Homo sapiens: one gene and its partner. The protein of the gene in region 2 purifies or fractionates together with the protein of the main gene of each other region. This does not show direct contact. Each region holds a gene or a part of one and is shown on either strand. Other genes may lie near its edges.

Region 1 (3,667 bases), on a different chromosome or scaffold from region 2:
TCGGCCTTCATACGTAGAAGGAGCAACCAAGGAATCTGTGGAATCGAACATGGGTTTACCCTAAAGCTGTGGCTCAGCCTTGGCTGCACCCTGGAATCACCTGGAGAGCCTGTACACTCCTGCTGTCCTGATCACAGCCCAATCAGATCAGCCTCCAGGGCGAGGTCCAGACATCACCAGCCTTAAAGCCCCCAAAGGTGACCTGGTGTGCAGCCAGGATGAGACCCACAACCCTAAAGCTAAATGGGTAAAGTACTGGGGTGAGGGGCCCCCAACTTGCAGTTGAGGACTTGTAGAAAAGTCAAGTCCTCACTCCTTTTGCATCACTGACTGGCCTGCCTTATGGGTATGTGGAGAGTGATGGTTGAAGTGAGATAGAAGGTTGCTATTGTTTTAAAAAACCAAAGCTCACAAAACCAAGCTCACAAAAGCACTTTTTATTTGAGGCAAAGAGAAGTCTTGCTGAAAGGATTCCAGTTCCAAGCAGTCAAAACTCAACCGTTAGTGGCACTATTTTGACCTGGTAGATTTTGCTTCTCTTTGGTCAGAAAAGGGTATTCAGGTTGTACTTTCCCCAGCAGGGTAGAAAGAAGGGCAAAGCAAACTGGAAGAGACTTCTACTCTACTGACAGGGCTCTTGAGATCCAACATCAAGCTAGACACGCCCTCGCTGGCCACTCTACAGGTTGCTGTCCCACTGCTGAGTGACACAGGCCATACTACATTTGCAAGGAAAAAAATGAGGCAAGAAACACAGGTATAGGTCACTTGGGGACGAGCAGGCAACCACAGCTTCAAAACTCTTCATGGAAGGGGTAATCCTTGTGGGAGGTACAGCTGTCAGGAGAAAGGAGAAAACAGTTGCTTTTTGAAGAGGTGATTTTGACTATACCCAACTCCCAACAGAGAAATGATGTGTCTCACTGAAGAAATAAAATAGAACCTCAGAGGCAACAAGCTAGTTCTGAGTGTGCAGATGATGGTTCTGCAGCTGGGGGAAGCAACTCACCCTCCAGACCCCTCTACCACTACTGTCATCAAGCAGCACATGTGTGAGGGACACCACCCTCCCCATGTGCCCAGCACTGTGCCTGGGCCGTGCAGGACGGCAACACGATTTCTGCCTTCCAGTAACTCAGTCTAGCTGGCAGGACCAGACAGTATTTTGTGGTCTTAAACATCTTGTGTAATAATATGAGAAGGCAGGCCAGACACAGTGGCTCACGCCTGTAATCCCAGGCTGAAGCGAGAGGATCACTTGAGGCTAGGGGTTTGCGACTAGCCTGGGCAACATAGCAAGATTTCCATCTTAATAAAAAAACTTTTTAAATTAACCAGGCATGGTGGTGCATGCCCATGGCCCCAGCTACTTGGGAGGCTGAGGTGGGAGGATCATTTGAGCCCAGGAGGTCAAGGCTGCAGTGAGCTGTGATCATGCCATTACATTCCAGCCTGGGTGACAGAGTAGGAGCCCATTTCAAAAAAAAAAAGGGATGTTAAAAGTCTGTATGTGACTGAATCTCAAAGGATAAGAGAAGCAACGGCAAGTGCTCTGAGGACAGAGGGAGCCTCCTTGTATCAGTGGGGGCTGAAGTGAGCCCAATCAACGGTCGGCGATTTTATATTGGAAACAGGGCAGGGAGCACAGGGCAGGGAGCACATGGCAGGGAGCACAGGTGCAGACGTGTTTGTCAAGGCTCACTCACTGTCCATCTAGTAGGGCCAATGGCTGTGCTAGGAACATAAAGGCAGGAACACTGGACAGATAGCTGGGCAGCTCACGCAAGGCCAGAGTTATGTAATCTGAGCTGGGTGCTTACAGTCTGTAACTCTTATTCAAAAGTTCTCCATGGTCTGCCTTTTTTGTATACCCACAGTGACACTGACATCAGCAGGTCAGGCTCAGTAAAGCATTATCTGCCAGAGGGGTGGTGTGTGTGTAGTTAGCGAAAACTCCCTAGGAGACCTGAGCATGTCAGGGCTAGCCTCTTCCTCCCACTCACCGCCACGCAACAGGATAATCGAACAGAAGTTTCTAGCACAATACTGGAGGGCAGAGGAGCCTAACTGTAAAGGGAGCAATGAGAAAACCACTGTGTTTCCTCAGCCCTGAAAGCTTCAATCCACTCTGTCTCAAGTGGGAGGGGAAAAGGAAGACGGATGAATGGGAGAGATTCTGAAAGGAGAACGAATGTAGCTTGGTGACTGATTCACTCCTCTCCTCCTTGTCCACTAGATCCAAAAATGATTTTAATGTCTAGGGCTAAGTAGCATTAACAGAGATGTCTGAAAGGGCACTGGCCTGGGGCTGCCTGTGACATGCTCTGTTTGCGGCCTATTTTGAGTGTGAGGCCACAGTGTGGCAGCAGCAGGCTTGCCAGGCACGCATATGCCTGAAGCAGGGCCAGAGTTATTGTCCAGGACGCAGACTGGGCAAACATCTGCCTGGGGCGGTGGCTGAAGCCACCAGCAGTGCAAACTCCGGGGAGGGAGATGGGACAGACGCTGGAAAGGGAAAGCTGGTAGCCCACCCCATCTTAGGGAATGTTCACATTTTGCTTAGAAGAGGAAGTACTAAAGGAGAGAGTGTGGAAACACAGAGCTCAGACAAGAATAAGGGTAGTGAGAGAGAAACAGAGTCTCAGTCTCCACTGCAAAATGAGAAGTTCCTTCTTGAAAGCAGAAAGTGAGTTACATGCGTCACCTAGTTATTGTAATGGTAGGAAAAGAGAAAACCCCACAGAAAACCTTCCTAGGCAGCTCCTTCCAAACTACCATGCAGAGGAAACAGAACCAGAGGATGTGTGGCTGGAGGAACTGAGGTGCCTGCTGCTCAGAGGGAGGGCCTGTTTTGGAGCCATGTGGCTTACCAGGTCAGAGCCGGGACTGTCTCAAACCTCAGCCCCAGGGGCTCCCGACCAAACCCCTTTCATTAGGGTCATTAAGACAAAAAGTCACAGGCAAATTCTTCCAGAGTTTGATCCAGGGTCACCTGGGATCACCTAGTTTCAGATGAACTGCTAGGATTTAAAAATTGAATGGAAAGCCAAAATATGTAGTTACTTCAGGCCAGGCCAACAATGCCCCAGGGCTGGAAGAAGATATCAAGAGCGGATCTCTTGGCATCTTGGCTCCATGCAGTTCAGCTGATGCAAGTCACGTGGCTGAGAAAGCAAGGTAATGTGCAAAGCAAGAACAGCTGTGACGAGAGCACATTGGCGCTGAGGCCTGCAGGGATCACTCTCTTGCTGTGCAGCATCTGAATATCTCCTGGGAACTGCTCCTCACACTGGGGCTCACTCACCTCAACAAGGCACAGACCCTCCAGTTCCTGTTGTAGCTGAGTAAGGTGGTCATATCCTGGCTGCTCAGTTCAAAGTCAAAGACCTAAAAAACAAACAAAAAAATCCAGTAAGCTCTGCAAATAAAAATAAAAGACAAAATACTGTGCAGGACCCAGATGTCTTCCATGGCTTTGAGCAGAGAGGAGCGATAAGATAAACTGAACTTAGGAAAAGCTGATATATTAGTATTCAGGAAATGTGCATGTTGGGCTAGATAATATATGGAACGATGGAAACAGTCCTTCCTTTCCAGAACCTCCCAGGGAAATGATACATTTTATTTCATTTCAAAAAACACTACTGAGCACTTCTATTGTGATAAG
Region 2 (3,667 bases):
CTTTTTATGGCTAGATACTATTCCATTGTATGGATAGACCACACTTTGTTTATCTACTTGCTTGGATAAACACATGTGTTATTTCCACTTTTTAGCTATTATGAATAGTGCCGCTGTGAACATCTGCAAAGAAGTTTTTTGGTGGACTTCAGTTTTCACTTCTCTTGGGTTACACTTAGGAGCAGAACTGCTGGGTCATGTGGTAACTTTATGTTGAATCTTTCAAGGAACGTTTCAAGGAACCTCAGACTGTTTTCCACAATGACTGTGTTTTACATTCCTTCCAGTGGGGTGTAAGGGTCATGGTTTCTTGTTTCTTCACGTATCTTGTAATTTTTTTATTGAAAGCTGAACATTTCAAATAATTTAATGCGATAACTTTGGAAACCAGATTCTCCCTCTGCCCCAGGATTCTGTTGTTACAGCTGCTTATTTGGTGACTTTTCGGAACTGACTTTGTAGACTCTTATTCTTTGATGTATGTGGCCACTGAAGTCTTTACTTGGTTAGCTTAGTGGTCAGCTAAGAACTGCATGGAGATTTCCCTAAACTAAGAACTCTCCCGGTCTTTGCTGAGGGCTCTGTGTGCGTTTGGAGGGGATGCCTTCCACACTCAACAGGCAGCAGACAGCTCTGCCCTAGCCTTCACTTCCTGCTTCTGCAGAGATCAAGGTCAGCTGGAGGTGAGGGTTCAGGGCCTCGTTGGTCCTTCCTGATGTGTGCACAGTGCTGTGCATGCGCCTGGCCTAGGTTCCCAGGAATATGCTGGAACCTTTCAAAGCTCCAGCAGACATCTCATACTTTGGCTTTTCCTTTGAAGCTTTTTGGGCAGTCTGTTGTTGGCTCTAACTGTTACCTATCCCCTCAGGCAGCTGTGAGAAGAAAACCTCAGACAAATGCCCCCAGAGAAAGGCTTTTAGCCCTGGCTGAGCTCCGGTGAAGTTGGATGAAGATGACCCTATAGTTGCTGACTCTGACTCTTCTTTGTGGGGGGGCTTTGAAAGACCCCAGCTGAGTTCTGCTCTCTCTGACACATCACTGTTCAGGGCTGCCGCTGAGGTGGGAGTGGGACCAGAGTGAGTTAAAACACCCTGGAGTTCCCATTCTCACTCAGCTTCAGCTGTTTTTCCTGACTTTAAATGTTCCCTGTGTTGCTGCAAGCCTGTGGTTAATTTCCATAATTCTGAATCTCCCAGTTCTTGCCAGTTTTATCGCTGTTTTTAACAGAGAGGTGAATAACTCCTGGCCCAGTCTTGTGGGTTGTGGGGGCAGAGTTGAGGAAGGGGCCCCGGGGTGAGGGGTTGGGGGGCAGCTGCAGCAGGGAAAGCAAATGGGCTGGGGGTGAGCAGAGAGGTTTGGCTGAGACCAGTCCCCACGGGTCTCCCAGGGAACCGTGTGCCGCCTGCTCCAAGCCTCTAAGTAGGCTGCAGCCAAGCTCTTGAAGACCACGGCTCTCTCGGCCTGGAGGCCACACCACCTCTGACTTAGACCCAGGGGCAGTCCGGTGGAGGCAGAGCAAGGGGAGGTTCTGCCACTTCTTGGATGTGACCCCAGCCTCCACTTCGTCCTGTGCTTACTGTGGAAACAGGGAAAGGAGCGGCCCCGAGGAGCACAAGCACCCCCAGTCCTTAGAGGCCGTGGGACTTGTCTGGCCGCCAGGCAGCCACAGCAGCCTCTAGAGGGGGCAGGTTGCTTATGCACAGAGGTGGGGCTCAGGGCTGCGTGACTTTGTAGGATGACACTGTGCAGTTGTTCAAGGCAGCTGCTGCAGACAGGGTCCCAGTGATCCCCTCTCCTGGCAGCTGGGCTCATGGTGGTTCTGCTTAAAGAAGGCCACAGCCAGCTTCCAGCAGCCCAGCGGTCATTGGGTTTCTCTGAGGCCCCAGGCAGAGCTGCACGTGCATCCGCACCAGGGAGCACTGCACAGGGGCCCTGGCCTGGCCCGGCCCTGCTCTGCACCTCACGGGCAGCTGCTGACGGCTCTTTGGGCTCACAGGGGATCCAGCAGGCGCTCCTGGTCCTTAGGAGGCAGGCAGCTCAGGGCTGCTTCGCTCTCCCTGCCACGCCCTCCCAGGGTGTCTGCCAAGGCTTGCTTGCGTTTTAGTCCCTTTGATTGCCAGACCTTTCGGTTTTCCTTGAGTAAACCTGAGAAATTCCTGACTTTATTTTTTTTTGCCAGTTGGAAGCATAAACTGTTTGAGATCCGCTTCCTCCACCAGCACATCTTGTTCTCATGGCCGCTAAGGGGACGTTCACCCTGGGCCTCCCACCTGCTTGGCCGCCCCTCTTCAGGTGACCTGTATGATTTCTGGGCTCAGAGCCCACCCGGGCCAGCCCTCGAGAGTGTGAAGTCCGTCCTGGCTTCAGCCAGGTGCCCTCAGAGCTGCCCCTCAGTCCCTGCCCACCTCAGCCTGTGGCACTTACCCCCTGTGCCTCCTCTCCTCTGGCTGGCCTTGTAGGCCACCCCTGCCGCGCAGACACACCTGAGCTCTGCTGGCCCTGATTTGCTGACCTGTTCTCTCCCCACTTCCTCTCTCTGAGTTTGGATCCCCCAGAACCCAGGTGTTGCTCCCTGGGGCTGCATGCCCCTGTCTGTTTGATGTGTCTGTCCAGAACCCGGGCAGACTTGAGGGGTCCCAGCTGTCTGCCTGTATGGCCCCTGCAGTTGCTGTACCCACCTCAGGCCCTGTATCCTGCTCTGAACCAGGGTCAAGGGGAGGGTCCTGGGGAACAGAGGGGAAAGGTACCCTGCGAGGGCACCGGGACCTGGAGTGCAGCAGCTTAGATGCAGACAGGCCACCTGCAGCCCCAAAGAGGCCACAGCCTGCAGACAAGGACTGGCAGCAGGGAAGCCCTGTGCATGTGTGCCCTGGGAAAGCTCTGCTTGATTCTGCAAAGCTGGCATCCTCTTTAAGGAAGCCCTAGGACAGGCCAAATGGAGCTCTTGTCCAAGGGGTCATTTCTGTCTTGACAGATCGAAGGTGCCTTGGAATATGGAATCACAAGTGATGACATCTTCTGGCTGAAGGAATCCCCTGGAAAAACGTAAGGCCTGCGCGTGCTTGGTGGGGTCCTCTTTTTGTTCACCAGAGTGAGCACTGGACCCTTAGAGCCTGTGCTGGTGCTGGGCTCCTGGGGCTTTCTTTCCGGTTTACCCAAAAGAAGGAAAAAAGGCCTGTTATTTGTGGCCAGGTGTGGTGGCTCATGCTTGTTAGCCTAGCACTTTGGGAGACTGAGCGGGAGGATTGCTTGAGGCCAGGAGTTCGAGATCAGCATCAGCCTGGGCAATATAGTGAGACCTCTACTCTACAAAAATCTGTTTTGGTTTTTTTTTTGGCTTTTTTTTTTAGGTGAATTCTCACTCTGTCCCCCAAACTGAATTGCAATGGCCCAATCTTGGCTCACTGCAATCCCTGCCTCCCAGGTTCAAGTGATTCTCCTGCTTCAGCCTCCAAAGTAGCTGAAATTACAGGCGCCCACCACCACATCTGGCTAATTTTTGTATTTTTAGTAGAAATGGGGTTTCACCATCTTGGTCAGGCTGGTCTTGAACTCCTGACCTCAGGTGATCCGCCCACCTCGTCCTCCTAAAGTGCTGGGATTACAAGCGTGAGCCACCACACCCAGCCTACAAAAATCTGAAAATATTAACCGAGCATAGTACTGT

The links. The genes of interacting proteins can lie anywhere in the genome.
Region 1: the proteins of TXNRD2 (region 2) and AKR1B1 fractionate together in Homo sapiens (co-fractionation; one large-scale study listed by BioGRID). This does not show direct contact.

Annotation. Positions count from the first base shown.
Region 1 is NC_000007.14:134,441,934-134,445,600, forward strand, and holds the end of AKR1B1 (aldo-keto reductase family 1 member B1), read right to left. Parts: intron 3,388-3,667; coding exon 3,305-3,387; intron 838-3,304; coding exon 795-837; 3' UTR 423-794; downstream 1-422. UniProt on the Homo sapiens protein: Catalyzes the NADPH-dependent reduction of a wide variety of carbonyl-containing compounds to their corresponding alcohols.
Region 2 is NC_000022.11:19,910,755-19,914,421, reverse strand, and holds part of TXNRD2 (thioredoxin reductase 2, mitochondrial isoform 5 precursor), read left to right. Parts: intron 1-2,974; coding exon 2,975-3,045; intron 3,046-3,667. UniProt on the Homo sapiens protein: Involved in the control of reactive oxygen species levels and the regulation of mitochondrial redox homeostasis. Maintains thioredoxin in a reduced state. May play a role in redox-regulated cell signaling.